Regions from separate parts of the Homo sapiens genome. Here regions 2, 3 and 4 are each linked to region 1. The links come from fine-mapping of genetic effects on gene expression. A gene starts in region 1. Each other region holds a variant in brackets. All regions are shown on one strand. Distances are from middle to middle.

Region 1 (8,101 bases):
TGTGTCTAGCTGACCCTTGCTTTCCTCGGTCTCCTCTGTGCCAGCTGTGCAGCGCATTGCTGAGTCTCACCTGCAGTCTATCAGCAATTTGAATGAGAACCAGGCCTCAGAGGAGGAGGATGAGCTGGGGGAGCTTCGGGAGCTGGGTTATCCAAGAGAGGAAGATGAGGAGGAAGAGGAGGATGATGAAGAAGAGGAAGAAGAAGAGGACAGCCAGGCTGAAGTCCTGAAGGTCATCAGGCAGTCTGGTAAGCTGAGGGGCCTGTGACATGTGGATTAGCTGTGGGTCCTCCTTGAGTATACGAGGACGTCCCCTTCTAGTTCAGTGTCTCATACACGCAAACTGTAGTGACACCACAGGGGCCTCCCTGTCTTCTCGCTCCATGGGGTGCCCCGAACTCAGCCCTACCTGAGACATGGGTTTCCTCCATCCTTGGCTCAGTCCCTCTCCCAATCAGGTTTTCCCTAATAATTCCTCTCTTCCCTGAGAATTAAGGCCAAGGCCGTTTGGGGTTTGAGGCTAGAGCCAAAAGAGGACTTCCCACCTATGGCAGTAAGGGGGCGTGAGGACATTCAGGGATGGAGGACCAGGAGAGTCCAACACCCCTGTCACCTGCATTTCACCTACATTTTTGAACCTAGGATGTGGTCTCTGCTGGGGTGCAGAGGGCTGCCTCATTTACTTGCCCTCTCCAGGACTGTTGTCTGTTTCTCCTCTTTTTCCTTCCTAGGATGGAGTGGGAGGGTGCCCTCTAGTGTTTAGATGTAGAATTTAAAATTCAAGAACCAGCCCGGCCCATTAACCTTTTTAGTCTCATTATTTATGGGAATACTGAAGAGTCAACCACCCCTACTAGAAGCTGTCAGCTCTTCCACACAAACAAAAGGCCTTGGGCCTCCTGCCTGCATATCTGGCAGTGAAGAGATTGGCCATGGGGGCAAAAGCTGTTGCTGGGCTTCAGTCCCTTTGTGGGCAAGAGACAGCTGGAAGACCTGAATCAGTCCTCACTGAGACCCCTCCAAAACAGTGGAAGAGGGGTGAGAGGAGACTGTTCCCTCAGGAAAAGCAGCAGGTGGCTGGGTGCGGTGGCTCATGCCTGTAATTCCAGCACTTTGGGATGCCAAGGCTAGCGGATCACTTGAGGTCTGGAGTTCAAGACCAGTCCAGCCAACATGGTGAAACCCCATCTGTAATAAAAATACAAAAATTAGCCAGGCACAGTGGCACACACCTGTAATCCCAGCTGCTTGGGAGGCTGAGGCAGAAGAATCCCCTGAACCTGGGAGGTGGAAGTTGCAGTGAGCTGAGATCGCACCACTGCACTCCAGCCTGGGCAACAGAGTGAGACTCCATCTCAAAAACAAAAACAAAAAACCAAAACAAAACAACAAAAAAAAACAAACAAACAAAAAATGCAGAAGGGCACCGGGTCAAATGATAGTCCTATGATGGAGCAATATAAACCACCACGACTCCTAGTGGCTCCTGGGTGCTGGCGCTGGGCTGGGCAGGGTATTCACTATTACATCTTGTTTAAGGTAATCTACACAATTTCCCCCTTTCTATTTCCTTCAGAAAGGTACTAACTGACTTACGTAAGCCATATGGCTAGTTGCTGGGAGAGCTGTTCTAGCCCAGTTCTCTCTCCATGCTTCCATGATGCCCCTGGAAAGCTTAACCTCAGCCATCAGACACTTAGCTCACACTCCAGGACAGCCGGATGGATACGCAGAGCCTGTGTTCTTATCTCTTCTTTCCCATCCCCAGCTGGGCAAAAGACAACCTGTGGCCAGGGTCTGGAAGGGCCCTGGGAGCGCCCACCCCCTCTGGATGAGTCCGAGAGAGATGGAGGCTCTGAGGACCAAGTGGAAGACCCAGCACTAAGTGGTAAGGCTTGGGAGTGTGAAATGGGGAGGAGGGGCTGGGATCTTGGTGGGTGGGGCCAGGCCCTGAGTCCCTCTCTGCTTGCCTTTCAGAGCCTGGGGAGGAACCTCAGCGCCCTTCCCCCTCTGAGCCTGGCACATAGGCACCCAGCCTGCATCTCCCAGGAGGAAGTGGAGGGGACATCGCTGTTCCCCAGAAACCCACTCTATCCTCACCCTGTTTTGTGCTCTTCCCCTCGCCTGCTAGGGCTGCGGCTTCTGACTTCTAGAAGACTAAGGCTGGTCTGTGTTTGCTTGTTTGCCCACCTTTGGCTGATACCCAGAGAACCTGGGCACTTGCTGCCTGATGCCCACCCCTGCCAGTCATTCCTCCATTCACCCAGCGGGAGGTGGGATGTGAGACAGCCCACATTGGAAAATCCAGAAAACCGGGAACAGGGATTTGCCCTTCACAATTCTACTCCCCAGATCCTCTCCCCTGGACACAGGAGACCCACAGGGCAGGACCCTAAGATCTGGGGAAAGGAGGTCCTGAGAACCTTGAGGTACCCTTAGATCCTTTTCTACCCACTTTCCTATGGAGGATTCCAAGTCACCACTTCTCTCACCGGCTTCTACCAGGGTCCAGGACTAAGGCGTTTTTCTCCATAGCCTCAACATTTTGGGAATCTTCCCTTAATCACCCTTGCTCCTCCTGGGTGCCTGGAAGATGGACTGGCAGAGACCTCTTTGTTGCGTTTTGTGCTTTGATGCCAGGAATGCCGCCTAGTTTATGTCCCCGGTGGGGCACACAGCGGGGGGCGCCAGGTTTTCCTTGTCCCCCAGCTGCTCTGCCCCTTTCCCCTTCTTCCCTGACTCCAGGCCTGAACCCCTCCCGTGCTGTAATAAATCTTTGTAAATAACTGCTGAGACTCCTCTTTCAGGGGAAGCAGGAGGAAAAGGGAGGTAATGGGGCGTCCTGATAGGGAAGGCCGGTGGTCAACCAAGGGTTAGGGTTTTGACCCTACTGTCCAATCCTCTAGTCTAGGAGTCTTTCTGGCAGACAGCAGGCTCGGGGCACTCAGAGGAAGAACTACAGAAGTTCTAGCTGCTGCTTGGGATGGCTGAAGGAGGCAGGTGGGGTGGGGAAGTCCTTCTCGAATAACTGGATTCCTCCAAAGATTTCCCCATCCCCACAGGACTCCCCTCGGGAAATTCCCCTTTTTCCCTCAGTGCCAGGCCTGTGTGGCCTAATAACGACGGCCCTGGTCTTCTTCCCACTCCCCTACCCTTAGGTAGGCCCTTAGACTCCGGCCTTTGAGTCCGCTTCTGCGCAGGGCCGGGGCTGGAGGCGGGGCGAAGGGGCGGGGCCGCAGGCGAACGCAAGTCCCGCTTCGCTCTCGGGGGCGGACTCAGCGGCGGAAGTGGCGCTGCCGGAAGATCTTCTTCCGCTCTGAGGCGCTACTGAGGCCGCGGAGCCGGACTGCGGTTGGGGCGGGAAGAGCCGGGGCCGTGGCTGACATGGAGCAGGTGGGTCCCGGAGCGGTCGCTGGGAGCGGGTGGCGTGCGAGGGCCGTCTTCCGCCGGTCGAACCCGCTTCGCCGCCCGCTGTCCGTGCTGGGTTCCGTCCGACCCTTCCCACACCCGCTGCGTCTCAGGTTCCGCCCCCTTCCTCTGTCTGGCCTCGCGCCGCCCCGCGCGGGTTGGGGTCTCCAGCAATGACTCTTGGCGACCCCGCCTATCCTGGGGAGCCCGGGGAGGACGTTCGGGATCTCCTTCCAAAGCCTCCGTCTTAACTGAGGGGAGAGGAGAGGGTGAGGTGTCTGGGTGTTATGAGCAGGGGCAGGTATGGGGAGGGGTCGGAATCTGGGGTGAGAGGAAAACATCTACGCATTCCGGTAGCTCTGCGTCTCAGTGTCATCCCGTGTCTCCCCAACTTCCTTTCGAAACGGCCGTGAATAACTTCCTAATTGGTATTAAAAGGGCCCTTTGAAGTCTTGAGTTCTTAGAGGTGCATAGTACCATTGACACTCATTTCTAATGACACGTTCCCTCACCCCGCATTTTTGGGTTAGTCAATGTCTCCTGGTTTTCTTCGTACCGCTCTGACAGTCGGTCAAAGTCCCGCTTCACGTTTTCCTCTGTCGCCCAACCCCTCGCTCTGTACACTGAATCTCAGTGGTCTTATTTTCCCCCACGGCTTCAGCTTTACACCAACTAAATACCCAGATCCACATCTTCAGCGCAGCCCTTCCCTGGAGCTCCACGCTTGCCCATCCAGCGGCCATTGGGACAGCTCTGCTTCACATGGAGCTCACTGGGTCCAAACTTGAACTGGTCTTTTCCTTGCAGATTAATTCTTCCTCTACCCCAACCCAGCCGGAAGTCTGGTAATTTCCTTACACTTTCTCCTCTCTTTCAAGTCCCACATCTTAAAAGTGACCTAGTACTGCCAACTTCCTGAACATCCTTCAAACCTGGGCCAGCTCCATCTCTTCTGTTACCACGCTGTTGATGTATTGTCAATTCCCAACAGTCCAGCCCTGGCAGCTTGCAACCCAGTCTCCAAACTGTAACTCTTGTGATCCTTTTAGAACACAAGTCTTACGGTGCCAGTTCCTTGCTGATAACCTTTTTCTGGCTTTCTATTGCCTATGTGCTGAACCCCTAGCACAATTTACACAGCTCTCTGTGATCTGACCTAGCAGTCTCCTGTGTGCACCCTAAGGTCCAATAATACGGCACTGCAGCATGCGCCATGCCTACCCTTGCTGTTCGTATCTTCATGACTTTGCACACACCAGCCCCCGCTGCTTGGAAACCTCCTCCTTCTCTTGTCTGCTGGGCTACCTTCTACATGTTTTTCAGCGCAGGCAGCGCTGCCTCCGCCTAACCCCCAAGGTTAATTGCCCTTCTGTGTCCTGTAGCACCCTGTCCATAATAGCATAGTAGCTGAGAATACAGACTCCTGGATCAGACTGCCTGGGTTCTGACCTGTTTGGTAACCTTGATGAAGTCAGTGCCTCAATTTCCTCACTTGTAAAATGGAGGTAGGAATGTCTCTACTTCATAGAGTTGTGAGGATTGAATGGAATATTGTATGTTTAGGTCTTAAACCAGTGCTAGGCACAAGAATGCTCAATAAATTAAAGTGAGTTGCCTGGGTGCAGTGGCTCATGCATTAATCCTAGTACTTTGGGAGGCAAGGCAGGATGATCGCTTGAGGCCAGGGGTTTGCAACTAGCTTGGGCAACATAGTGAGACCCCATCGCTACAAAAATTTAAAAAACTAGCTGAGCATGGTGGTACGTGTGGGAGGATCCTTTGAGCCCAGGAATTTGAAGTTACAACGAGATATGGTTGTGCCACTGCACTCTAGTGTGAGGGACAGAGTGAGATCCTGTTTCTAAAATAAATAAATAAAAAGTTATTACTATTATGTAAGGACAACATAGTTCACCAGTTATGATTTTTAATTTCATAAGTTGCCTGAGGATGGTTGAAGTGGCTTACTAGTCATTGGATAGAGCCTGGCTCTTTGCCAATAAATAAAATGCTGGAGTGGAGGACACTGGGGGCAGGGTCTGGATTTATTGAGTGAAGATTCAAGAGTGAAAAAGGCTCAGACCTGGTCTGCTCAGGAAAACCAGTCTGGAAGTGTGTGTGTGTTACATGGCAAGCATTAAATCTAGAGAAATGTATAGATCTGGGAACTAGAGGGAGAAAAAGACCAGGGGCGGCTTCTGAGGAGCTGACAGTTAATGGGGCCTATAAAGCGATGGGAGGATTTTATCAGAGGGAGGCAGAGGCTGGAGTGGGCTCAGAGATCAGAAAGCTGGGTCCTCTGAACAGAGCTCCAGTAGATGGTGGCTGGGTGGGGGAACAGGGGAGACGGAGCTGAGGAAGACAGAGGCAGCGTCCTTTGCTGACGCTGGCAATTCCTTTCCTGTATTGGCCATGAGGAAGCATCCCTTGACTTGGGAGCCAGCAGGGACCATGCCTGGGGGCAACTATGCTCCGGAGGCCTAGTACCTGGTGTTTGGGACCAGGCCCCCTGGGTAGGGCCATTGTGCATGCCTTTGGGCTGGGCCTTCTTTGGAGCTCTTTTGCCTCCCTGTAATGCCCACCCTCCTTGCCTCCAGCTGATAGATGCTGACTCTTCAAGGCCAGGGTCAGATGGCCCCTCCTCCCTGTGGCTTTTCTGACTTCACTCATTCCAGCCTGGGTCAGATGATCCCTTCTCTGGGAGCCCACGGTCCTTTGTTCATTCCTCCCTGAAAGCGCTGATCACAGCATGGTATTATTTATCTGCCAGTCTTCCTCACCAGACCCAGAGTCCCTGATGGACCAGAACAGGGTCCTGTGGCCCCAGGACTTGCACTGTGTCCAGCATACTGTAGGCCCTTGGAACCCGCATGTTGCATTAAGTTGAGCTCTCACACAGCTAGACTTGTTAAGGGAGAGCGGTGCGGGGGAGATAAAAAATCCGGCACATCTGGCAGCTTGTGCCTGTTCCACTGAATGCGAGAGCCTGTTGGCTCCACTTTACAGATGAGGAAGCTGAGGTTCAGGGGAGGTAAGGTCAAGATCACTCAGCAGGGATTTAAAGAGCTGTCTCCTGACTCCAGGTCTGCATGTCTCCCAGAAACTGCCTTGGGGTCCCAGCCTCCAAGGGGGCAGGTGCCACATCAGTGGGACAAAAGAAAAGTGTCCCTTTTTCTGGCTGAGGAGAGGCTAATCCTGGCTTTGTCCAGGCAGGGTTGGTGCCTGGAGGATCCTGTGCTGAAACCGGCTCCCTTCCATCCCCCCAACCCCCCCACCCCTTGTCCCTTGCCCTATGGGGGCCTTTTCTTGAGAGGGCTGAGATCTCTCCTGGAAGATGACTAGCCGTTTCCAGACTAACCTTGGGAACTTGACCTCACTGGTTTACATAGCAGCACGAAGAGGGCAGGTGGGGCCTGATTCACTGGCCCTGAGTGGGTCAGGGGTCATGGAATCACAGAACTGGGGGCATCCCTGATGATTCACAGGGCCTGGCACAAGGGGGAAGGGAGGGCAAGTAGATCTCAGTGTGTTAGGGTCTTCCTGTACACTGCACCCGCAGAGCCTCCCCGGCTGGGGGGAGAAGTGTGTGGTGGTGAGTCTTGTTTCTATTTGGCTTAACTCTTCCCCTTCCGCTTCCTCAGAAGGAAAGGAGAAACAGAGCCAGGCTTTGGCTTTGGGTCTTATTTGTCACTGTAGCTGTGTCCTCCTCTCCCTACACTCCCACTTCTCCAGGGGATTTCCCAAACCCTCTGTGGAGGGCTATAGTAGGGCCAGTCAGCCAACCATCCCGAGGCTGATGGCATGGGCCAGTAACCCTGAATGTGCCATCCTAGCCAGGCGCAGTGGTGCACACCTGTAGGCTCAACTACTTGGGAACCTACTCCCAAGTTTTTGACTCCAGGATTGATGTCCAACCCCAAACCCACACCCTTTCTCCTGTTCCAGGGTGGACATTACGGATCCACAGACTAGCTAACTTACTAGACATGTACCGTGGCCAGGCACTGTGGCTGTGACTTGGACCTCAAGGGCTTAGGACAGATGGCCTTGAAACATCTAGCTGTGATAAGGGAAATGCTGACCCAGAGTTACTTGGGAGGCTGAGGCAGGATTGCTTGAGCCCAGGAGTTTGAGACCACAGTGTCCTATGATCGCGCCTGTGAACAGCCACTGCACTCCAGTCTGGCAACATAGTGAGACCTGTCTCTTAAAAAAAAAAAAAGTGTCATTCTGGGTCAGCCCCCTGAAGCCAGGGTCTACCCTTCCATTCTGCAGTACTGCTGGGACTCTCAGTTTGGGCAAAGTGCTATGCTGGACCTGCCTGGCCAGGGTCCTGCCTCTAACACTGTCCCCATGGGTAATAGTAGTAATAGCTGCTATTAATTAAGCACAGACACTGTGCATGTGTTGTTTCTAATCCCTTCAAGCTCTGTGAAGTAGGTACTATATTCTCCCCATTTTACAGAAAAGGAGACTGAAGTTCAGAGAAACCCAGTGATTTGGTCAAGGGCACACAATCTAATAAGGAATGGCCTTAGGTTTTTGCCTCCAGGACTGGTGTCCAACCCCAAACCCACACCCTTTTCCCTGTTCCAGGGTGGACATTATGGATCCACAGGCTAACTTACTAGACATGTATCATGGCCAGGCACTGTGACTGTGACTTGGACCTCAAGGGCTTGGGACAGATGGC
Region 2 (8,101 bases), 180 kb before region 1:
TGCAGTGAGCCGAGATGAAGCCATTGCACTCCAGCCTAGGCAACAGAGGGAGACTCCATCCCAAAAAAAAGGCCAGGCATGGTGGCTCACACCTGTAATCCCAGCCCTTTGGGAGGCCAAGGCGGGTGGATCATGAGGTCAGGAGTTCAAGACCAGCCTGATCAACATGGTGAAACCCCGTCTCTACTAAACATACAAAAATTAGCCAGGCATGGTGGCGTGTGCCTGTAATCCCAGCTACTAAGAAGGCTGAGGCAGGAGGATCGCTTGAATCAGAGAGGCAGAGGTTGCAGTGAGCCAAGATAGTGCCACCGCACTCCAGCCTGGCAACGGAGCAAGACTCCATCTCAAAAAAAGAAATTAAAAATAAAAACCTGATCTCATTTAAAAGACAGAAAAATCAGGGTGAATTTTATTGAACTCATGACAACAAACCCATGCCAACACTTACTATGGCTGACTGGTCACTACATTTAATCAGCCCAGGAAGTCTCATGCCATCTGTCATCATGTAAAACATTCAAGGCCAGACACAGTGGCCCATGCCTGTATTCCGAGCATCTTGGGAGTCCAGGTGGGAGGATCCCTTGAGCCGAGGACTTCAAGAGCAGCCTGGGCAACATAGCAAGACCCCGTCTTTACAAAAAATAAAAAAAAAATTAGCCAGGCTCTGTGGCTTACACCTGTAATCCCAGCCAGGAGAGGCTGAGGCTGGAGGATTGCTTGAGCTCAGGAAGTGAAGATGGCAGTGTGTCAGCCGGACACAGTGGTTCACACCTGTAATCCCAGCCCTTTGGGAGGCCAAGGTGGGTGGATCACCTGAGGTCAGGAGTTCGAGACCAGCCTAGCCACATGGCGAAACCCCATCTCTACTAAAAATACAAAAATGAGCCGGGCATGGTGGCAGGCGCCTGTAATCCCAGCTACTCAGGAGGCTGAGGCAGGAGAATCACTTGAACCCAGGAGGTGGAGCTTGCACTGAGCCGAGATCGTGCCATTGCACTCCAGCCTGGGGGACAAGAGCGAGACTTCATCTCAAAAAAAAAAAAAAAAAGACTGCAGTGTGTCATGGTCATACCACTGTACTCCAGCCTGGGCAACAGAGCAAGACCTTGTCTCAAGAAAATAAATCCAGGTTGTCCTGGCAACACTGTACTCCAGCCTGGGCAGCACAGCAAGACCTTGTCTCAAGAAAATATATCCAGGGTGTCCTATCCTCCTATAGCGGTGAATAAGGAGTGTTCACAACTGAGTTCCAGTACTTGTGTTTTTCTTTTCTTTTCTTTTTTTTTTTTTTTTTTGGAGACAGTTTCACTCTTGTTGCCCAGGCTGAGTGCAATGGCACCATCTCATCTCACCGCAACCTCCACCTCCCGGGTTCAAGCAATTCTCCTGCCTCAGCCTCCCTAGTAGCTGAGATTACAGGCATGTGCCACCACGCTGGGCTAATTTTTGTATTTTTAGTAGAGACGGGGTTTCTTCTTGTTGGTCAGGCTGGTCTTGAACTCCTGACCTCAGGTGATCTGCTTGCCTCGGCCTCCCAAAGTACTGGGATTACAGGCGTGAGCCTCCATGCCTGGCCCGTGTTTTTCTTTTTTCTTTTCTTTTTTGAGGCAGGTTCTTGTTCTGTTACCCAGGCTGGAGTGCAGTGGCATGATCATGGCTCATTGCAGCCTTGACCTCCTGGGCTCAAGTGATCCTCCCATCTCAGCCTCATAGTAGCTGGGACTATAGGCAAGCAACACCATGCCTGGTTAATTTCTTGTTTTTGTTTGTTTGTTTTTGGTAGGGACGGAGTCTCGCTCTGTCGCCCAGGCTGGAGTGCAGTGGCGTGATCTTGGCTCACTGCAAGCTCTGCCTCCTGGGTTCAAGCAATTCTCCTGCCTCAGCCTCCCGAATAGCTGAGAATACAGGCCCACACCACTACGCCTGGCTAATTTTTTTTTTTTTTTTTGAGACAGAGTTTCTCTTTTGTTGCACAGGCTGGAGTGCGATGGCCCAATCTCGGCTCACTGCAACCTCCGCCTCCTGCGTTCAAGCGATTCTCCTGCCTCAGCCTCCCGAGTAGCTGGGATTACAAGCATGGGCCACCATGCCCAGCTAATTTTTTAGTATTTTTAATAGAGACGGGGTTTCTCCATGTTGGTCGGGCTGGTCTCGAACTCCCGACCTCAGGTGATCCGCCCGCCTCAGCCTCCCAAAGTGCTGGGATTACAGGCGTGAGCCACCAAGCCCGGCGGCTAATTTCTTTTGTATTTTAGTAGAGATGGGGTTTTACCGTGTTGCCCAGGCTGGTCTCAAACTCCTGAACTCAGGCAATTTGCCTGCCTCGGCCTCCCAAATTGCTGGGATTACAGGCATGAGCCACCTTGCTCGGCCTGTCATTTCTTGTATTTTTTTGTAGAGACAGATGTCTCAACATGTTGCCCAGGCTGGTCTCCAATTTCTGGGCTCACGAATTCCTTCCATGTTGGCCTTCCAAATTGTTGGTTTTACAGATGTCAGCCACCACACTCAGCCCTTTTTTCTTTTTGTTAGCCACTTTTTTTTTTTTTTAGATGGATTCTCACTCTGTTGCCCAGGTTGGAATGCAGTGGTGCAATCTTAGCTCACTGCAACCTCTGCCTCCCAGGTTCTAGTGATTCTCATGCCTCAGCCTCCTGAGTAGCTGGAATTACAGGCATATGCCACCATGCCTGGCTAATTTTTGTGTGTGTGTATATATAAATATATATATATTTTTTTGTTGTTTGTTTGTTTGTTTTTGAAACAGAGTCTTGCTCTGTCACCCAGGCTGGAGCGCAGTGGCACGATCTTGGCTCACTGCAACTTCTGCGTTCTGGGTTCAAGCGATTCTCCTGTCTCAACCTCCTGAATATCTGTGATTACAGGCGATCACCACCACGCCTGACTAATTTTTGTATTTTTAGTAGAGATAGGATTTCACTGTGTTGGCCAGGCTGGTCTTGAACTGCTGACCTCAAGTGGTCCTCCCACTTCGGCCTCCCAAAGTGCTGGGATTACAGGCATGAGCCACAGTGCTTGGCCTCTAATTTTTTTTTTTTTTGAGGCAGAGTCTTGCTCTGTTGCCCAGGCTGGAGTGCAGTAGCGTGATCTCCCCTCACTGCAATCTCTGCCTCCCAGTAGCGTGATCTCCCCTCACTGCAATCTCTGCCTCCCGGGTTCACACCATTCTCCTGCTTCAGCCTCCTGAGTAGCTGCGACTACAGGCACCCGCCACCACGCCCAGCTAATTTTTTTGTATTTTTAGTAGAGACGGGGTTTCACCGTGTTAGCCAGGATGGTCTCGATCTCCTGACCTCCTGATCTGCCCGCCTCGGCTCCCAAAGTGCTGGGGTTACAGGAGTGAGCCACTGCGCCCGGCCTATTTTTGTATTTTTAGTAGAAACAGGGTTTCACTGCATTGGCCAGGCTGGTCTTACTCCTGACCTCAAATGATCCTCCCCTCTTGGCCTCCCAAAGTGCTGGGATTACAGGCATGAGCCACTGCTCCCAGCCACTTCTTTTTTCTTGATAGCATTAATTTTACTTCCATAGAAGATCAAAAAGTTGTCGTGGAAAACTTGGTCTTTTTATTTTTTAAATTTTTTTATTATTTACTTATTTATTTTGAGACGGAGTCTTGCTCTGTTGCCAGGCTGGAGTGCAGTGGCGCGATCTCGGCTCGCTGCAACCTCTGCCTCCAGGGTTCAACCTCTGCCTCAGCCTCACGAGTAGCTGGGACTGCAGGTGTGTGCCACCAAGCCCAGCTAATTTTTGTGTTTTTAGTAGAGACGGGGTTTCCCCATGTTGGCCAGGATCGTCTCCATCTCTTGACCTTGTGATCTGCCCACCTTGGCCTCCCAAAGTGCTGGGATTACAGGAGTGAGCCACTGTGCCTGGCCTGATCTTTTTATTTTAGAACCAATATTTATGGACTCAATCATTTAGAGACGGCGGGCGTGGTGGCTCACGCCTGTAATCCTAACACTTTGGGGGCCAAAGTGGATGGAATGCTTGAGCCCAGGCATCTGAGGTCAGACTCGGCAACATAGCCAGCCCTCCATCTCTACAAAAA[A/T]ATAAAAATAAAAATTAGCTGGGCTGGTGGCCTGTGGCTGTAGTCTCAGCTACTCAGGAGGCTGAGATGGGAGGATCACCTGAGCCCATGAGGGGAAGGCTACAGTGAGTTATGATTGTGCCACTGCACTCCAGCCTGGGCGACAGAGCGAGACCCTTCACACACACACACAAAATTAGGTTAAAAAAAAAAAATGTTTTGGATCGCCCTGTGAGCAAAAGGAACAAGAACATTTACAGAGAGTGATTTTTGAGAATTGAGACTACCTTAATTCAGAATGTTTTCTGGTCCTGAATTTACCAGCTGAACTTCTCCGTTTTGGACAAGCCCCTTCATTTCTCCATGCCTTAGTTTTCTCACTTATACAACCTATTTCAGAGGACTGTTGTGAAGATGGAATGACTTAAGGTAGGCGAAAGTTTTTTAAAAAGTAATAAATGAGGGGCCAGTGTAAGATAGTGTTATTTTCTTGTTAATTAATACTATGCTTTTCTTGTTCATATTATAATCTTTTGTATGAGGATGAAAGGCTAAATTATCCAATAACGGCCATGGGAGGATCTCAAGATGGGATGAGCTTTTAGGTTCTGAGATTTGAAGCAAAGATTGGTAAGGAGACAACACCATAGGATGGAAGAGCTTGTGTTTTAGTCTCAGAAAGACATGAATTTGAATGTTGACTGTGGCACTTGTTGGACCAAATTATTCAACTTCCCTGAGGCTGGGATTCCTTTTCTATAAAACAGGGATGAAAATCTCGTGTTTTGCAGGATAATTGTGAAAATTAGAGATAATGTATGTAAAATTCTTGGCAGGTAGCACACACCCTATATGTGGGAAGCACTGTTAAAACACTCAGGGACTTGGGTTGAAATGTCCCGACATTTGTCTTTTGCTCTGTAAAAAATAATCTCAACCGGGCGCGGTGGCTCAAGCCTGTAATCCCGCCACTTTGGGAGGACCAGACGGGCAGATTGCTTCATTCTAGGAGTTCAAGACCAAGGATCGCGGATTGCTTGAGTCTAGGAGTTCGAGACTAGCCTGGGCAACATGGCGAAACCCCATCACTACGAATAATAGAAACAAATTAGCACGGCGTGGTGGCGCGACTCTATAGTTCCAAGTACTCGGCAGGATGAGGTGGGAGGATTGCTTGAGCCCAGGAGGTGGAGGCTGCAGTGAGCCGAGATCGTGCCACTGCACTCCAGTCTGGGCAAAAGAGAGAGAACTTGTCTCAAACAAACAAAAAAATGGCCCGGCGCGGCGGTTCACGCCTGTAATCCTAGCACTTTGGGAGGCCGAGGCGGGAGGATCACTTGAGGTCAGGAGGTCGAGACCAGCCTGGCCAACATGGTGAAACCCTGTCTCTACTAAAAACAAAAAAGTTAGCCGGGCGTGGTGGCGGGCGCCTGTAATCCCAGCTACTCGGGAGGCTGAGGCAGGAGAATCGCTTGAACCCAGGAGGTGGAGGTTGCAGTGAGCCGAGATCGCGCCACTAACACTCCAGGATGGGCTACAGAGCGAGACTCCGTCTCAAAGGAAAACAAAAAACAAACAAAAAAAAGTCATCCTGGTAGTTAAAAGATTTGTTAAAAAGGATGTTGAAATTATTTTGTCACGGAGCCTGGGAGTGTTTGTTTAATCAGTTACCGATAAAGTTTTGGTTAAAAAAAAAAAACTCGGTTTGTTCCGTTTCAATAAAGCTTTGCTCAAACGGGGAGCTCCGGGAGCTCATCGCGAGACTCAGGTGAAACGCGTTTCTAGTTTGGGACCTGATCTCGCGTTGTTTGATAAGCAGGGGAATGAGGTGAAAGCGAAGCACGAAACATCGCGAGAGGCTACTGGACTCTCGCGACGATTTCTGGGATTGCCCCTCCCCCCTTCCCCAAGTGCCGTTTCGGTTTAATCTAGTGTGTGACTGGGTCTGTGTGAGGGAGAGAGTGTGTGTGGTGTGGAGGTGAAACGGAGGCAAGAAAGGGGGCTACCTCAGGAGCGAGGGACAAAGGGGGCGTGAGGCACCTAGGCCGCGGCACCCCGGCGACAGGAAGCCGTCCTGAACCGGGCTACCGGGTAGGGGAAGGGCCCGCGTAGTCCTCGCAGGGCCCCAGAGCTGGAGTCGGCTCCACAGCCCCGGGCCGTCGGCTTCTCACTTCCTGGACCTCCCCGGCGCCCGGGCCTGAGGACTGGCTCGGCGGAGGGAGAAGAGGAAACAGACTTGAGCAGCTCCCCGTTGTCTCGCAACTCCACTGCCGAGGAACTCTCATTTCTTCCCTCGCTCCTTCACCCCCCACCTCATGTAGAAGGGTGCTGAGGCGTCGGGAGGGAGGAGGAGCCTGGGCTACCGTCCCTGCCCTCCCCACCCCCTTCCCGGGGCGCTTTGGTGGGCGTGGAGTTGGGGTTGGGGGGGTGGGTGGGGGTTGCTTTTTGGAGTGCTGGGGAACTTTTTTCCCTTCTTCAGGTCAGGGGAAAGGGAATGCCCAATTCAGAGAGACATGGGGGCAAGAAGGACGGGAGTGGAGGAGCTTCTGGAACTTTGCAGCCGTCATCGGGAGGCGGCAGCTCTAACAGCAGAGAGCGTCACCGCTTGGTATCGAAGCACAAGCGGCATAAGTCCAAACACTCCAAAGACATGGGGTTGGTGACCCCCGAAGCAGCATCCCTGGGCACAGTTATCAAACCTTTGGTGGAGTATGATGATATCAGCTCTGATTCCGACACCTTCTCCGATGACATGGCCTTCAAACTAGACCGAAGGGAGAACGACGAACGTCGTGGATCAGATCGGAGCGACCGCCTGCACAAACATCGTCACCACCAGCACAGGCGTTCCCGGGACTTACTAAAAGCTAAACAGACCGAAAAAGAAAAAAGCCAAGAAGTCTCCAGCAAGTCGGGATCGATGAAGGACCGGATATCGGGAAGTTCAAAGCGTTCGAATGAGGAGACTGATGACTATGGGAAGGCGCAGGTAGCCAAAAGCAGCAGCAAGGAATCCAGGTCATCCAAGCTCCACAAGGAGAAGACCAGGAAAGAACGGGAGCTGAAGTCTGGGCACAAAGACCGGAGTAAAAGTCATCGAAAAAGGGAAACACCCAAAAGTTACAAAACAGTGGACAGCCCAAAACGGAGATCCAGGAGCCCCCACAGGAAGTGGTCTGACAGCTCCAAACAAGATGATAGCCCCTCGGGAGCTTCTTATGGCCAAGATTATGACCTTAGTCCCTCACGATCTCATACCTCGAGCAATTATGACTCCTACAAGAAAAGTCCTGGAAGTACCTCGAGAAGGCAGTCGGTCAGTCCCCCTTACAAGGAGCCTTCGGCCTACCAGTCCAGCACCCGGTCACCGAGCCCCTACAGTAGGCGACAGAGATCTGTCAGTCCCTATAGCAGGAGACGGTCGTCCAGCTACGAAAGAAGTGGCTCTTACAGCGGGCGATCGCCCAGTCCCTATGGTCGAAGGCGGTCCAGCAGCCCTTTCCTGAGCAAGCGGTCTCTGAGTCGGAGTCCACTCCCCAGGTGAGCTATTTGTCTAACAGTCCTTCCTCATTTAGGGTGGGTTGCGAGGAATTGGCATTCAGCGTGTTAACATTGTCTGGAAGCCCGCAGTGTTCATCATTGACTAGAACACTTTGCTGTTGGCTAGTCATTCCAGTGTGTGAATCTGTCTCCCCTTAACCCAGAATTCGAGAAGTGAAGAGTACATAGGCCTCAAACCGCCAAAGGTAGGTACTTCCAGTGGTGGGGTCTTCAGTTGTAAGCTTCTGAGTGAGAAACGTCAAAGGCTTCTGCTTAGTGAGTGGATGGAGTTGATACTAGTTCCCAGAGCATGTCTAGCTATTTCTGTTGCTTAGTTTTATATTTTTAAAAATCACATTGGTATTTGTGCTTTAGACTCTATGGGACCTGGTTGAAGACTTAAGAAATTGGTATGGAAGTTACTTGCCTAGTTTATCCTATTTGTGTTGTCCACTGAATCCCCAAACCTGTACATTTATTCATTTCCTACTTGGCACTGTTTTA
Region 3 (8,101 bases), 37 kb after region 1:
CCTGCTAGTCTGTTTCCAGGTGAAGCTCAGAGAGGTGAAGTCACAAACAGTGCAGACTGCTTCAGACCAGAACGAGGGAGAGTGGGGATCATGAGGAGATGGAAGTAGAATCTGCAAGGTGGTGGGGAGGTGGGGGTGTTATGATTGAAGCACAATGGCCGAGGGAAGTGAAAGGGAAAGAACTGGCTCCAGCTCCCTCTCACAACTGGACTTGAGTTCTGCCCAGCTCTGCCTCTGGGGCCTGCCATTCCCCATGCCACGTGCCCAGGCAGAGACCTCACCTCTGTTTACTGCCTCCAGCCAGCTCTGGGACCTGCCCCTGCCGCCACAACTGTCTTCTCCTGCCCTCCAGCCCACCCTATTCACACAAATGAGCTGAACAAGGGCAGGTGAGGCTTGGAATTGATTTATTAAGCACATCCCTTGCCACCCTCCCACCTTAAAAGTTTTCAGTATCAAAAGAAGCTAGCGCAGGCCACCCGAGTCCCTGAGGTTGGAGTCCTAGCATAGCTCCCCTCCCTCAAAGAGGGACAAGGGGTCAGGGGCAGAGCAAAAATCCAGTCTGCTTCAACCACGGAGACTGCCTTTGGGATGGAAAGTTTCTGGAGCTCCCTCCATTCTATTCCTGTGGGGCAGGAACATGCCAGGGCTGCTGGTAAATGGCAGGGGTCACCTTTACCAGGGCGCAGGCATAGTGTGGCCCCTGCCTGCCCTGGGGCCACCCTGGAACAGTAAGACCCTCTGGGAAGGGAAGAAACCAGACCCAGCCATAAGCTTTCTCCCCTTCTCCCTCAAATCGCCCCTTCCTCCTCCCCAAAATCAGGCTATGGCAAAGGGGCTGGCAGCAGGGGAATGGAGGTTTTGGAGGGGAAGGCCAGCCATGCGAAGGCAAGGAGAAAAGGAGGATGGAGAGAGCCCCAGCCATCCCCATTTTCCTTCCTCTGCCTCCGAGGGGCTGCTTCTGGAGGGCACTGTTGTGTGGGGACCCTGTGAGGTTTGCAGGAGGCGGGCAAAGGGGCACCAGACAGGGAACATGCACACAGGCAGCCTGGCCATGGAGAGCTCCTGGCTGTCCGCCCAGGTGGCGCCTTGGGCAGAGCTGGCGCTCCACAAGTGATTATTGATGGTGACAGGATTCCCTCATCCTGCTCCAACCTCTCAACTGTGGACACATTCACCGGCAGTCACTCATCTCACATGCCCACCAGCACGCGCACACACGTTCCCCTAACCCACGCTAACACACCCACCCCCTGCACACACACACTTTGAAGCCACACCTCTTCCCCGACAACACCCGTCTCCACACTGCGCACCTAGGCCTGAGCTCACACACACCCAGGCCCATGCTCACGGCCCTGTCACCTATGCACTCAGCCTGGCCCACACTCCCGACACACGGTGGCAGGCTCTCAACCAGACAGCAGCACAGGATCCTTGCCCTGGGCTTGCTGGAGCCCTGGCCCTGAAAGGGAGTATGGTGAGGCCTCCTGGGAACCTGGCTAGGGCAATGGTCAGGGTGAAACTCCTTCCCAATCCCAGCAGCTTGGTCCCTCAAGATCCCATGGGGAGAATCGCCGTGAACCTTGGCTGGCCAAAGAACAAGCATCCAGCACCACCTAGTGGTGTCCTGGAGGAGGGTGGGGGGTGGTAACAGAAGGGGACCCCCTGTATCCCTAAGGCCTGTGGTCCCTGGTCTCCCAGGTAGACAGAGGGCTTCAGGACCCAGCCAGGCAGCTGGGGATGTGGGGAGGAGGCTGATGGGGAGGAAACAGGCAGCTGTCCTCCCGGTAGAGCTAAGAGCACACTCAGTTCCACCCCAGTTCAGCTCCAGGAGGTAGAGGGGCTGCCCACTCTCGAGTCCCAGATGCTGGGAGGCCTTCCCTAGAACAGACTCCAAGGCTGGTGAGGGCCAACAGGGGGTGGGCTGGCCACATGATTCTGGGCCCACATCCTTCATGTCCAAGTTCAAGAAGTTGAAAAGAGAAAATCATCTCAAGGGTTGAGGGGAGAAGGGAGGCCAGCAGGGCGGGGGCAGGATCCCCACTGGGGCAGACTCGCTCCAAGGTCTTCAGTCCAGCTTGAACTTGTCCTCTGATTCCTTCAGCAGGTACAGGCTGTCATCTTCCAGAAAGCTGTGGGCCAAAGGAGTAGCCCATTGAGGCACACAGCTCTGACAGCTCGCATGGAGACAAGGGTGGGGTGCATGCAGGCAAGGTGGGAGGGGGCGGATGGGCACACAGAGCCCCCAATCTCCCCTAAGGAGTGGGCAAGGAAGGGTCCAAAGAAGGTGAGCACCAGGCAGGGGGCAGCACCCACCTGAAAAAGAGGACGTGGACAGGGATGGTGCTGATGTGCCAGATGGCATGGGCATCCAGGACCCAGAAGAGCGGTGGGAAGTCAAGCAGCTCGAGCAGGGACAGCCCCTGCAGCAGCAAGACCACCACCACGCACTTGCGCACGTGAGGCAGCCGCCGCTGGTTCCACAGGCACCAGGCCAGCCACCACACCACGTTGACCAGGCCTGGGTGCCAGTGGGGGCAGGAGAGACTCATTCCTTCGGCTCCTTCTCCCCAAGGCCACCCCCAACTCCATGCTCTCTGACCCCAGGATCATCCTCGGACTCTCCTCCCAGCCTCCTCTCTCTCCCACCTCAAATTCTTCTCCATTCCTCTACCCCAAGAGTCTCTCTAGAACCTCCTTCTCCAGGAATGGCACCAACCTCCCACTCGCACCCCAAGCTAGCACTTCTGCAGATGGCCCAAGCCCCCCAGGGCCTCACCAATAGCCACGTTGGCCACCAGGTTGTAGCCATAGTCGAAGCGGATGAGGCTCAGGTAGGAGACGTGCACGGTCAGCATGAGCAGCAGGAGAGCCCGGAAGGCACTGACCACAGCTGGGTGCTGCAGCCCCACGGTCCTGCCCCACCGTCCAGGGTTGCTCAGAGGGCAGGTGGCCCATCCCCAGAGCAGCATTCCCTGAAGCATCTCCTCCCCCCAACATTGGTGCATGGCCCCTGAAGTCACTACCCCTCTCCCCACCAAACAGGCCACAGCTGGGCAGCAAGTGCTACAGCTCCTTGTCAGGAGCCAGGGCCCCCAGTCCTACCCCAGAGTCCTCACCCAGGACAGCTGATGTGTTGGGGGTTGGGGGGCGTAGGTGTTGGGAGACTAGTGAAGAAGGCCCCCAGGGGAAGGCTGGGTGACCCCTTTCTGCCCCCAGGGTTCGATTTTGCCCCTGCAGCCACCCAGGCAGGCTCACCTGACGCAGCACAGGTAGATTGAGTGTAGGATGACAGTGGAGGCACAGAAGTAGTCCATTTTCTGAGGACAGGGAAGGGTGGTGAGGGACCAGCATGAGGCTTCACGGAGAGGACCCGCGGGGATGGGGGCATGGAGGAGTGGCAGAGAGGGGCCGGGGTCCTGGGCCTGCCTATCACTGTTTCACTCTGACTGAGTCTTGTGTTCACATCACCATACAAGTTTTTAAAAATGTGCCCAGGAACAAGGCTTTAGGGACGCTGGTGGAGGGTTCCTGCTGAGGCTCCAGGACATGACCACGCTGCACAGAATTCAGAGCACAGTGTGGAGTCTGACAGCCATGGGGTCACGTCCTGTGGCAACCCTTCACTGGCTGGGTGCCCCTAAGCATGTGGTCCCCCTGTCGAAGGCTCAGCTGCCTCATCAGGCAAGAAGAGCGAATACTCATCCCCACCTGATGAGGCTCACTGAGGATCAAGGGCACCAACAGGTTTAGGATGCCCACCCCATACTCCTCCCAGTGCTCCTCAGAGGGAGTTGGCATGACCCTCTAGAGCCCCTCTGCCCACTTCTGGGCTCCTCTGGGACCACCCTGTGCAGGAGGGGGAGCTGGAGGAATGCTCACCTCTGTGAGGTCAGTGTCCCTGGTGTGGAA[A/G]ACTGTGGACCAGAACCATGCATTGAGGGACACCTAAGGAGGGAGGGGCTGGTGAGCATGCTGCCCCCCACCCTGACCTCAAGGCAGGGACCCCCATTTGCTCACATCCATTTCACCTTTGGGAAGGGGCTCTGCAGGACAAGAAATGTGCTTTTCCTGCCCCTGGAGCCCTCTGAACAAACCTATGTCCCTCTACCCCCACCCAGCCAGGGTCCCTGGGGTGGACTTCCTGCCACCCCAAACCCCCAAGGCCACGGGGGGCTGCAGCCTCCACAGGTTCCGGCCTGGCCTGGGAACCAGTTCCGGTATAGCCAAGCTCCCTAGTTACTCAATTGCTAAGACAACAGCCCCCAGGGGCCTTGCCTCCTCCTCCAACCGGCAGGTGTTGACAGCACCACCCCACCCGGGCCCAGGGGAGCCAGTGACCTCAGCCTCTGGGGGCGGGAATGAGGTGGGTGGGGTGGAGGGGCTCGAGCCAGCTTGGGGTGTGTTCCAAGCAGCAGGGGAGGGAGATCAAGCAGATCCCACTGGGGCACAGGCTCCCAGGAGGAGGGTGAACCAAGCCCAGCTTCCTCCTGGCTGGGCCTGCCCAACCCGCCAGACCAGTGGCTGCTCCCGAGCCTGGGAGGAGTAGAGGGCAGGACTGGAGGGGCTGTGGTGGGCCAGGGCCCAGGGGAATGTTTGAGGCCTTCTTCCTGGAAATTAGCTGCGTGGAGAGAGCACAAAAGTTATCTAGCGAATGAGCCTAAGAGCTTGTGGGCGTTGGTGCTGGCACTTTCTTCAGGGACTGCTGTGTCCACAGCAAAGGCCCAAACTGCTGAAAGCAGGGTGGGCTGAAGGGAAGGGCTGGGAAATCGTGACAACCAAAGGAACAGCAGGCCAGGCCGGGAATGGCCTGGAGGTGGGGAGGGATGCGCTAGGGTGGGACAGGCCTGGCGGAGATGAGGAAAGGCCAGGAACTGCTCAGTTGGCTCCAATGTACCAGGAAAACTGGCCAGGCAGGGGACAGAGGGAGGGGGCAAGAAGCTACACTCTGTCTGGCACTGTAGCAGGCAGGTCAGACAGTAAGATGCATTCCAAATGCAGGTCTGGGGAGCTCAGGAGAGAATGGGAGGAGAAGGGGTACAGGCGGGGCAGAACTGCTGCACAGCCAGTCAGGTTCTCGGGGTGCCAAGCTCTGGAAGGCGCAAGGCTGCCTAGTGCCCCTGTCTGGCCTGGGCTCTGGGCTGAGCCTTGCTGCTTCTGCTCCTCTTGACCTGGTCAAAGGGCCCTGCCCTTCTCAGCCCAAGCTTCCCCCGGGACAAATCATGGCTCAAGTGAAACTTCAGTTCCTTTCCAGCCTGGCGTTAGGTGGTGTGGTCTAGGGCAGGCTGCTTCCTCCTTTGAGGATGGCCACTCTGTCCCTTCCACCAGACTCAAGGCTCTGCCCTGCTGCAGCCCCCTCCCCAGAGACAGGCATGGAGGCTGCACAACAGGACTGAACCTGGTGGCTTCTCAGACACTGCTCCCACAGTCTGAAAAGCTTAGAGTCAGCATGGGGAGAGGAGCAGGCTTGGGCTGGAGACGGGACCCAGGCAATCACATGGACCAGTTCTCCCTGGCAGGCCAGGAACAGGGACATCCTTAGGGAGGAGAGTGGCCCTGGAGCCAATGTGGGAAGGAGAAGAGGAAGGCGGCAGGGACTGGCAGCCAGCCAGGCCTCCTTGTCACCCACAGCAGGAAGGGGGAGGTGAGAAGAGGACTGCAGGACTGAGCTAAGTGGCTCAGAACACCGAAAGCAGGGGGTGTGTGTGCGGGCAAACATATGCGTAGGGCCACAGGATGGGTGGGGCTGCTGGGTCCCCTCTCCAACCGCCTCCCTGGGTGCCTTCCACTCACAGAGACCCACCTGAAGCCTGGCCTCTGCACCCCTGAAAAGCCCCTCCCCCCTGGGGAGCATCCCACTCTGGGGGTGCTCCTCTTCTCACCCTTTCCTCAGATTTGGGAGGTAGTGGTATCATTAAGAATGCAAGCCCTACAGCCAGACTGCCAGGGTTCAGTTCCTGGCTCTGCATTTCCTGTGTGTCCTTGGGCAAGTTATTTAGCCTTGCTGTGCCTCAGTTTTCTCATCTGCAAAATGGGAATAATCATAGTTGATAAGGGTTTAATGAGCAATACAAATACAGCGTACAGCACAGAGCCCAGGACAGGCTGAAACATGAGTGTTCTCTCCACTTGCCTGACCAGCACAGAACCCCGTCAGCTTCCCATAGAACTGAGGCCTAAGAGGATGTCTGCCTCCCACTCTCCCTGCAGGCCAAGGATGTTTAGGCAGATAAGGGGTGGTCTCCTAGCTGCCTAGGCCCACCTCCACAGCTCCAGGCTGGGGGAAGAGTGTCCAGTCTTCACAATGAGACAGAGTCTGCATTCAAGTCCTGCCTCAGCCCCTACGCAGCTGTGTGACCTTGGACACATAACCCAGTATGTGTGAGCCTCCACTGCCTCACCTACAAAACAGGTTCATAATGATGCTCACTGCACAGGAGGCCATGAGGACGAGGTCTGCGGAATGCCTGGCACCAAGGAACTCCTCTGAATGGCTGCTGGTTTTGCTGCCTGGTCCATAGTAGGTGCCCATCAATGTCAGTTTCCTTCATCAGGTCCAGTAGACTGACTCTCACCACGCCCGTTCACCTGCCCCTCAACTTCCCTTTCCGCAAGGGTCACAAAGTTTGAGGTCAAACTATGGGGCCTCAGGGTCTCTCCATTCCAGAACGGAGACACCTCAGCTATAGGAAGAGCCCCTCCTCCTTCCTCTGGAGCCATGTTCCCATCAATGTGAACCGAACAGATCCATTTCTCCTCACTCAGAGTTTGTCATCAAGAGCAAGCAAAGGGGAAAGATGGGCTCTGGAAGGAAGGAGAGTTCCAAGATGCCAAGGCACGGCTACTCTCGGACTCCTTGCCACGCTCAAGTGAAGGGGGGCAGGGAGGGGAACTGGCCAGGAGGGCGACAGGCTGCCCAGCAGGCACCCAGAGCTTTGCGTAAACACTGAGGAGAGGGGGTGGCCAGGGGCAGGGTGCCAGTGGGGGTGGAATAGGAGACTGGGTGGAGGGAGAGCAAGAGGCTGTTTCAGTCTGTTGGAAATAAGAAAATCGAGACAAAAATATCACAGCCGTGAAACTGGTTGGATGCCAAGTGAGCCAGATCTGTCAGGAATTCGACCCGGCGCTAAGCCCCAGTGCTCGGGGCTGTCATTGACACCATGGCGGTGGGGACAAGTGGGGCTTAAAATAGCTCAGTGTCTCAGAAGTGGGGGAGGCAGAATGTTAAATATGATGCCTGCTGCCATCCTGGGCTCCTCTGGAGGCCACAGTGTCTCACCCCCTGCCTCAGGCAGGGCAGGCCAGCCCCAGCTCACTCCTGAGAGAAGGGAGACAGAGGTGGATGCGGATGGGAGAAGGAGGGCTTTTTCCAAGATCCCAGAGGATCCCTTGATTTCCTGCCATTGCCTGTTCCACTAGCTCTTGTCTGACCATGGGAAGTCCTTCCTGAAGTCTAACCATCATTCTACTACAGCTGCAACCTACCTCTTCTTGTAGTTTGCTTAACAGAGGAAGAGAAGAATCAGTCCCCACCTACACAAACCACTCTACAGAGATGGTTTGGGCTTCCCACCACTTCACCCTCCTCTCTACACCTGAGGACCTTTCCTGACTGGATGAAGGCCTGGGGAATTGGTTTGGCCTTCTGGCTTTGGCACACAGCAGGGGCCCCTACTCCGTGAAGTCAAAGAGACATGGTATGCGGAGCTTTGGTAGGCTCCCCACCCGCCGCCTGGCTGCTCCCCAGCCCAAGCCCAGGCCTAAATGGCAAGGCAAGGGCTGCCTTCTTGTGCCAGCGTTATCATGAGTCCTGCTGGAGGGCGGGGTCTCCTCATTTCCCAGAGGCAAAGCTGAGGTACCCTTCCCCCAAGACTTAGCCCGGAGCGGGTGAGGGACCTTGCCTTCCTATCCTCACCCCAACAGAAATCAGGAGCCTCAGTGCCCCAGAAGGCCCAGGTCAAAGTCCACTGCCGCACCCTCCATACAGCTCAGGATCCCTCCCTCCTGCAGAAACTCACAGGGCAACTGGGAAGCCCAAGAGCAACTGGGAAAGCCAAACTAGGCCATCCACAGGAGTGTGGGTTCTGAGGCTTTGTTTCTT
Region 4 (8,101 bases), 190 kb after region 1:
CCTGGGCTCAAGAGATCCTCCTGCTTCAGCCTCTCAAAGTGCTGGGATTACAGGTGTGAGCCACTGCACCCAACCTATAAATTGTTTTTGACGGGGATAAACACAGACTCTGGAAGGGGCTTTGCTTACCTGGTTGTATACACAAATGGTCAGTACCACGAAAGAACCAGAACAGAAGATATTGCACCAATTTGAATGGCTGAGCCACATTTCTTTAGACTAAGGAGCACTCTACTTACAGCCCATAATGTCAAACAATGGGCAAAGAGCTATCCTCCTCAGAGTAGTAGTTTGATAGATATCTAAAATAGGGTAAGGTATAGGTGTGAAGGGTTGGTTTATGCATTTGCACAAGTGTGAGGTCACATTGAAATGAGCTAAGGGAGTGTTCCCACTAGGTAGATTCCTCTGTTTTTCTGGTGGATTAGGGAAGAGGAGGTGGGGGAGGATGCTGATATGACTATACAATTCTTGCCAAAGAGGAGGATATTGGTGTGATGACTATTCTTTTTTTCCTTCCCTACATTGTCACATCAGCTTTCTCTTTCCTACCAGATGCAGTGGTTGCAATACCAGCACTGTAATTACAAGTGCCAGAAACAGAGATGATTTCTAAAGCAAGAAAGTGTAACCGTAGCTTTAAACCTTTATGTCAGAACTCCTAAGGGCCTGATGAGGCAGGCTGTGCCTTTACCCCATCTGGCAAAATTGGGGTTAACATTGAATGCAGATGTATTGCCTAGTGGTAGAAATAGCCCACTAGTTCCGTACCTGTGTAACCCTATCCTGTATGTATGGGAGTTGACTGAGGGAGAGGTGCTTGCTAGACTAGTATTGCTGCCTACGATCTAGACCAGTGCAGTGGTCAAACCTAATATTCCTCCCAAAGGTGGGAAAGTTTGGGCATAAACAGTAAGAAGGAGGAAGAGTAGCTGAGAGTAAAGGAATGAATAAATGAGTTATGTAACAAGTCCTGTGAGTCATCCTAGCAAATTATTAAACATGTGGAGGGGAGTCCCCGATTTTGTAGCTAAGTCAGACAAAAGTGCAGGTAACCTGGGGACCTGGTACTTGAGACTGTTGTCTAAAGTAGGGAGAGTACTGTGCAGTACTGTGAGACTGAGCCTGTAACCTGTGCGGTCTACGCAAACATCAGGAATTACAATCAGAATTGAATTGAAGTGGGCTGGGTATGGTGGTTCATGCCTGTAATCCCAGGACTTTGGAAGGCTGAGTTTGGCAATCACTTGAGGTCAGGAGTTCCTGGCCAGCCTGGCCAACATGGTAAAACTCCGTCTCTATTAAAAAAAATACAAAAATTAGCCGGGCATGGTGGTGGGCGCCTGTAATCTCGGCTATTTGGGAGACTGAGGCAGGAGAATCACTAAAACATGGGAGGCGGAGGTTGCAGTGAGCCGAGATTGCGCCACTGCACTCTGGCCTGGGCGACAAAGTGAAACTCCGTCTCAAAAAAAAATAATAATAATAATTGAATTGAATTGTTGGACACCAAGTCATTGTCGGAAAACCAGAAAATTGGTTTGTTGGTGTCAGAAAACACCCCAGACAAACTTTCTACAATAAACATGTATTACTTTTATAATGGAAAATAGTCAAACATCATGTTTTAAGTGAAGTTAATATAATTGGAACACTGGATAAGCACCTTAAATTCTCAAAATTTGCTGATAACCTACAACTATGAAATGCAAATATTTGTGAAATTAACAAAACAGAATCACTCCTAACTAAACCTACAATTGCAAGTTTTCCTTGGAGAGCTGATTTCTTCTCTACACTAAGCCTAAGCAATATCTACAGGCATCAGTGTTTAGTCTGCACACTACGGCTCACCTCCTATGTCTTCATCTTCATTGGCTGGGCCTTCTCCACTGTCCACATTTTCCATTTCATGAGATTTGGTTAAACTGTAGTCATTCAAAACCGCTGCACTTTCTAAAAGATAAAAGGAATTTTAAGTATGTGGTTCAACGTTAAAGGATTTTTATAAATATATATTAAGTAGACCCCCATTTAACTTTCAGCTTCACACAATCCTTTAGTGACAGATAGTACCCCTTCACACATACCCAAAAGGGATGTATACATGAAAACTCTTGAGGTTTAGAAATAAGCCCAGGGTTCGCAGTGGCTCACGCCTGTAATCCCAGCACTTTGGGAGGCCGAGATGGGCAGATCACCTGAGGTCAGGAGTTCGAGACCAGCCTGGCCAACATGGTGAAACCCCATCTCTACTAAAAATACAAAAATTAGTTGGGCATGGCGGTGCATGCCTGTAATCCCAGCTACTCGGGAGGCTGAGGCAGGAGAATCACTTGAACTCGGGAGGTGGAGGTTGCAGTGAGCCAAGATAGCACCACTGCACTCCAGCCTGGGTGACAGAGTGAGACTTCGTCTCAAACAAAAAAAAAAGAGAAAAGAAATATGCCCAGGGTTCATGTACCCTCTGAATACACACAACTTTCTTGAATATTTCTTTCATCTGAGTTAAAGGGCACTCATGTTCCTTCTGGAGAAAAACTATCTCTCCATTGGTATATCTCACGATATTCAGTAGGATGCCATTGCTATTTATGACAAAGTAGTGACCAGAAATACTAAGCGTGCAAACACTGGCATAACCTAATTTGGGAAAGATGCTTTCCTAGGAGGAAGATCTGTAAGCTTTCTGTATGCCAAATTCTGTTTTTCCCTTCTGTTCACATTATAAATGTGATTCTGTGGAAAACATATTGGACCCCAAGTTTCTTTATTTGTTTGAACATTTACTGAATGTTGACAAGGCTACAGATATGAATAAGTCATTATGTCTTCAAGGAGCTCATACTTTGAGATATAGATAAGAGAAGCCCACAACTCTAACACATGGTAGGCTCAGACAAAGGATTAAATAAAGGAAATACAAAGTGTTATTAAAGTTCATAAGTGAAAGGGAGCAGACATAATAAAGACATGCTTAAACAAACAGCAAACTTGTTACAAAATAAGTTTAAGAGAAATGTATAATAAATATTGATAATACTAGAAGAAAAAGGAACAATGCAACTGGAATTATTTTCACATATAGGCATAGTAGCTTAACAAAAAGATGATAGCAGAAGAAATGAACTGAAAAGTTACCCTCTTTTTATCTAACTCCTTCCCAATCTTCAATAAAATATTTGCTGAGTTCCCATTAATATAAAAAATAGTCAAAGACACTGAATCCTGTGGCACTGAGGCTGGGCTGAAGTAGGGAGGTAACTAGAAGCTCTGCAGTGGCACTCCTTTCAGCTGAGCCATGACCAAACACACGCGGGAGCGAAAGAGAAACACGTTTCACAAAACCCATCACTAAGAGCCCCTGAAAATGTGGTCACCATGGACTCAGTGTTTGATTTATGAATATCTGAAGTTTCTAATTTCTGCATATTATGATGTATACTCTGTGAACTCTAAGATACCATTCTAAACAATGGTTCACTTTTCTCAAGCCTGAAATGACTAAAATATAGTGGACACCTAAACAATTAATATGAGATTTAGGTTCAGTTAAAAGATGTGATTGGCCGGGTGCGGTGGCTCATGCCTGTAATCCCAGCACTTTGGGAGGCCGAGGCGGGCGGATCACCTGAGGTTGGGAGTTCGAGACCAGCCTGACCAACGTGGTGAAACCCCGCCTCTACTAAAAATACACCAGGCATGGTGGTGCATGCCTGTAATCTCAGCTACTCAGGAGGCTGAGGCAGGAGAATGGCTTGAACCCGGGAGGCTAAGGTTGTGGTGAGCCGAGATCACACCATCGTACTTCAGCCTGGGCAACAAGAGCGAAATTCCGTCTCAAAAAAAAAAGAAAGAAAGAAAGATGTGATTACAAGTTACAGTAACACAAAAAGGCATTTCAGTGATAAATTAAATTTTGTAATATAATGTAAGCTTTGATTCACACAGTGAGTTAATCAATGGAGGACACAGAAGTTATTTTCAGGAAATAAATTATTGTAAATGTTTATAATTTATTCTAGAGCAGGGATCAGTAAACTATGGCCTGAGGTACAAGTCTGACCATAGCCTGCTTCTGTGTGGGCCCAAGAGGTAGGAATGGTTTTTACATTTTTTAAGGGTTGTAAGAAATACAAAAAATAATACGTGACAGAGACCATATGTGGCCTGCAAAGTCTAAATATTTACTATCTGGCCCTTTACAAAAAAGTTTGCAGACCACTGTTCTACAGTAAAAATCGCAAGTCATTCAAATACAAGCTACTATATTATTCAACAAAAACTGTCTTCAGAGCAATGAGCTGAAAAAT[C/A]AAAAACAAACAAACAAACAAACAAACAGTGATCAACATTAGGTAGTGTATGTTTGGCCCTAAGATGCTAAAGAACTTACATGATCTAAATGGATGAGTTATTTTTTCATCAGCAACAGACAACCATATTTAAAAAAAAACACACACACATTTCCATAGCATTTTTACTGCAACCAGAATAAGCACATTCCTCTCTCTTTGGTATTTTTTTTAGTAAAGGTATATTTCCAGAGAGGAAAGACCTGATGTTACCTGCGGGCACAGACTGCTCCTGAGTGCTTTTCAGTTCCGCATTTGTTTGTATATCTGAAAAGAAAGAGGTTATAAATATTAGCTACTTAGGGTACATTTCTACAGGTTTGAGCATTCCAAATTTAATAAGGGATACCATTTCGGAAAACTTAACAGCAGAATTCCTCTTTCAGAGCAAGATTACTCTTTCTCTATATTCTCCCTAAAAGCCTTTCAAGGAGCATGAAAAAAAAATATTGATGCAGCAATGTTACTCTAAGAACTTTCTGCCAGAGATCTACTTACACCAAGAACAATATGCAAAAAGTGGGTTCCATTAGAAATAATTTCATATATTCTTTATTCTTCCCCAATATTTTATTATGAACACATAGAAAAAAAGAGTTCAAAGTGGTATATATATATATATGTACATATATATGTACATATATATAATGAAATACTATTCAGCAATTAAAAAGAATAAAATCATGTCATTTGCAGCAATATGGATGGAGCTGGAAGTCACTATGTTAAGTGAAATAAGTCAGGCACAGAAAGACAAATATCACATGTTCTCATTCATATATGACAGTAAACACGTTGATCTCATGGAGGTGGAAAGTAGAATGATAGACAGGGTGTGTGGGTGGGAATGGGGGATGAAGAGAGATTAGTTAATGGGTAAAACATATAGTTACATAGAAGGCATAAGCTCTAATGTTTGACAGCAGAGTAGGGTGACTATAGTTAACAACGACGTATTATATATTTCAAAATAGCTAGAAGAGAGGACTTGAATTGTTTCCAACACATAGAAATGATAAATACTCAAGGTGATAAACATTCCAAATTCCCTGACTTGATTATTATATATTCTATGCATGTAACAAAATATCACATGTGCCCCATAAATATGTAAAATATTATGTATCAATAAAAAATTTTAAAAAAAGAACTGCACAGTTGAACATCCATTACTCACCCTCTGGATTCTACAATTAACATTTTGCTATTTTTGCTTTCTCACATATGTTTCCACCCATTCATCTCTCAATCCATTCATCGATCCAGCTTTTTCAACGCATTGCAAAATAAGTTGCAGATATCAGTATACCTCAGTCCTAACATTTCAGCATGATTATTATTAACTAAAATTCAATATCTGTTTACAAGATTTTAAAAAGTAAATTTTACATACAGTGATATGCATGGATCTTAAGTGTACCATTCAATGAGTTTTTAAAAATGCATATCCTCATGTAATGCAAACCCCTATCAAGATACAGAACATTACCATCATCCCAGAAAAGCTCCCTCACATCTCTTCCTAGTCAATTCCCACCCACATACTCCAGAGACAACTACTGTTTTGACTTTTTCCACCATAGATTAGTTTAGCCTATTTTAGAACTTCATAAAAACAGAATCACACAGACATATGGTATAAATTATTTTGCCCGAGGCTTCTTTCACTCAACATAATGTTTTGAGATACATCCATTCTGTGGTGTTTATCAGTAGTTCATTCTTTTTTATTGCTAAGTAGTATTCCATATGAATATCCCAGTTTGTTTATCCATTCTCCTATTGATGGACACCTAGACTGTTTCCAGTTTGGGCTATTTATAAGTCAAACTACTATGATATTCCTTTTTAAAATAATAAACTTTTAAATTTTAGAGTAGTTTTAAATTTATGGAAAAATTGCAAAGATAGCACAGAGAGTTCCCATATACCCCACACCCAATTTCCCCTATTATTAACATCTTATATTAGTATGGTACATCAGTTATAATTAATGAATATATATTCATACATTATTACTATCTAAGTATTCAGATTTCCTTAGTTTTCATCTAATGTCCTTTTTCTGTTGCAGGATCCCTTCCAGGATCCCACATTACATTTAGTCATCTTGTCTCCTTAGGCTCCTCTTGGTTGGGACAGTTTCTCAGACTTTCCTTGTTTTGATGATCTTGACAGTTTTGAGTACTGGTCAGGTATTTTGTAGAATGTCCCTCAACTGGGATGTGTTTGTTTTTCTCATGATTAGACTGGAGCATGATCATCCTTGCACAAGTATTTCTGTGGTCATATGCTTTCATGTCTCTTGAGTCAATACCTAGGTGTGGAATTACTGGGTTATAGGGTAGGAGGCATATATCTAGTTTCAACACAGTGAAACTAGAACTTGTTCAAAAGTGCTTCTTCCCTCTACTTTGGGCTTAACTTACTCTGCTTCTGCCCTCTTAAGGTGAAATTTTAGTGACTGACTTTATTCCTTTCTTCTTTTCTAATTGTAAACATTTAAAGCTATAAGTTTTCCTGTAAGCATTGCTTTAGCTGCATCTCATAAATGCTGATGTTTTGATTATAATTCAGTTCTAATTTCCCTCGAGTCTTCTGTGATCCACTGGTTATTTATAAGTGTTTAATTTCCAGATATTTGGGGGAATTCGGGAATTCTTTAGCTAACTTGTTATTGAAGTCAAATTCCATTGCACTACAGTCAGAGAACACAGTCTGTGTGACTGTAGTCCTTTTAAAAGTATTAAGACTGGTGTTCTTGGTGAATGTGCCATGTGTAGTTGAGACATATGTATGTTCTGGTTTTTGTTGGTTTTCTTTGTTTGTTTTGTTTTGCTTTGCAGATCTGGCTGAGGCTTTATTTTGGAGGAAAAAAAAATGATGTAATTGTTTTGTAGCTGGAGGCATGGGCAAGGGGGGTATCCCAGGCAGTAAACTCCCCATGGGTGGGCTGAGGGTTAGGGCTGAGCCTCAGGTGGGTCTCCTGTTCCCTATACTCCCCTGCACAGTGGCCTCCTCCACAGGCTCTGGAGAAGCCATGGGAGGGGGTAGGCTGGGAGGGGCTGCTATGGCCTTTCACCTGGGCAGGACATCAGAGGACTGGGACACCAGCTTCCCATCGTGGTCTTGATCTTCTTCACAACCACAGCCCTAGAGAAGCAGGCACAGCCAAAGGAGCTGGAGCCCCCGCCAGAGCCAAAGCTGGATCCCAAGCCATAGCTGAGGCCAGGGCTTGTAAGGCCCCTGTAGGCTGAGCTCAGCCCACCTGAGTAGCCCCTGGTGGTCTTCATATGGATACTCATGCTCTGCATCCCAGACTTCAGCTGGCTCTCCTTGCCCTCCAGCAACTTCCTGTAGGTGGCGATCTCAATGTCCAGGGCCAGCTTGATGGTCATCAGCTCCTGGTACTTGAGCAGCTGACGCGCCACGTCCTGCTTGGCCCACTGTAGGGCGGCCTCCAGCTTGGACCCCCTGGCATTGGCATCCTTAATGGACCGCTCCCCACACATACACAATGGCGGCCTCCAGGGAAGCCCTCTGGCCTTTGAGGCCCTCTGTCTCAGACTGGAGCCGGCTGATGTTCCAGTTTATCTTGGAGATCTCCGTCTTTGTACAACGCAGGTCATCCTGTGCTTCCCAGGCAGGGTCTGCAGCTCCTCATACTTGATCTGGTGCATGCTGTCAGCCTTGGCCTGGCTGCGGTTGGCGATCTTCTCATACTGGGCCTCGACCTCAGCAATGATGCC

Evidence for each region. PIP is the estimated chance that this variant, and not a neighbour inherited with it, causes the effect.
Region 2: its variant is fine-mapped to the expression of STARD3 in whole blood (TOPMed, PIP above 0.99).
Region 3: its variant is fine-mapped to the expression of STARD3 in whole blood (INTERVAL, PIP 0.98).
Region 4: its variant is fine-mapped to the expression of STARD3 in blood mononuclear cells (TOPMed, PIP 0.98).

The regions. Positions count from the first base shown.
Region 1 is chr17:39,633,839-39,641,939 of GRCh38, forward strand. STARD3 (StAR related lipid transfer domain containing 3) reads left to right here and starts at 3,306. Exons shown (of 15, transcript NM_006804.4): 1 at 3,306-3,393. It overlaps PPP1R1B (protein phosphatase 1 regulatory inhibitor subunit 1B), which reads left to right. Exons shown (of 7, transcript NM_032192.4): 5 at 45-248; 6 at 1,769-1,888; 7 at 1,978-2,786. The coding sequence ends at 2,027. LOC124903998 (a long non-coding RNA gene) reads right to left here and starts at 3,452. Exons shown (of 2, transcript XR_007065749.1): 1 at 3,153-3,452; 2 at 800-1,188. RefSeq lists enhancers at 1,451-2,074, 3,858-3,977 and a silencer at 3,248-3,317.
Region 2 is chr17:39,455,521-39,463,621 of GRCh38, forward strand. CDK12 (cyclin dependent kinase 12) reads left to right here and starts at 5,966. Exons shown (of 14, transcript NM_016507.4): 1 at 5,966-7,597. The coding sequence starts at 6,552. RefSeq lists enhancers at 5,743-6,667, 6,028-6,077, 6,168-6,227, 6,393-7,592, 6,618-6,747. The variant A/T (reference allele first, on the strand shown) is at 4,079.
Region 3 is chr17:39,670,732-39,678,832 of GRCh38, forward strand. It overlaps PGAP3 (post-GPI attachment to proteins phospholipase 3), which reads right to left. Exons shown (of 8, transcript NM_033419.5): 4 at 3,886-3,948; 5 at 3,262-3,323; 6 at 2,783-2,919; 7 at 2,320-2,524; 8 at 391-2,135. The coding sequence ends at 2,072. Among named protein-coding and RNA genes, the nearest start is that of PNMT, 6.3 kb to the left of the region's middle. RefSeq lists enhancers at 3,963-4,510, 4,140-7,546, 4,511-5,056, 5,057-5,602 and a silencer at 5,761-5,820. The variant A/G (reference allele first, on the strand shown) is at 3,916.
Region 4 is chr17:39,827,533-39,835,633 of GRCh38, forward strand. IKZF3 (IKAROS family zinc finger 3) reads right to left here. Exons shown (of 8, transcript NM_012481.5): 2 at 4,566-4,619; 3 at 1,855-1,956. It also overlaps the pseudogene KRT8P34. Among named protein-coding and RNA genes, the nearest start is that of IKZF3, 33 kb to the right of the region's middle. RefSeq lists an enhancer at 7,864-8,101. The variant C/A (reference allele first, on the strand shown) is at 4,314.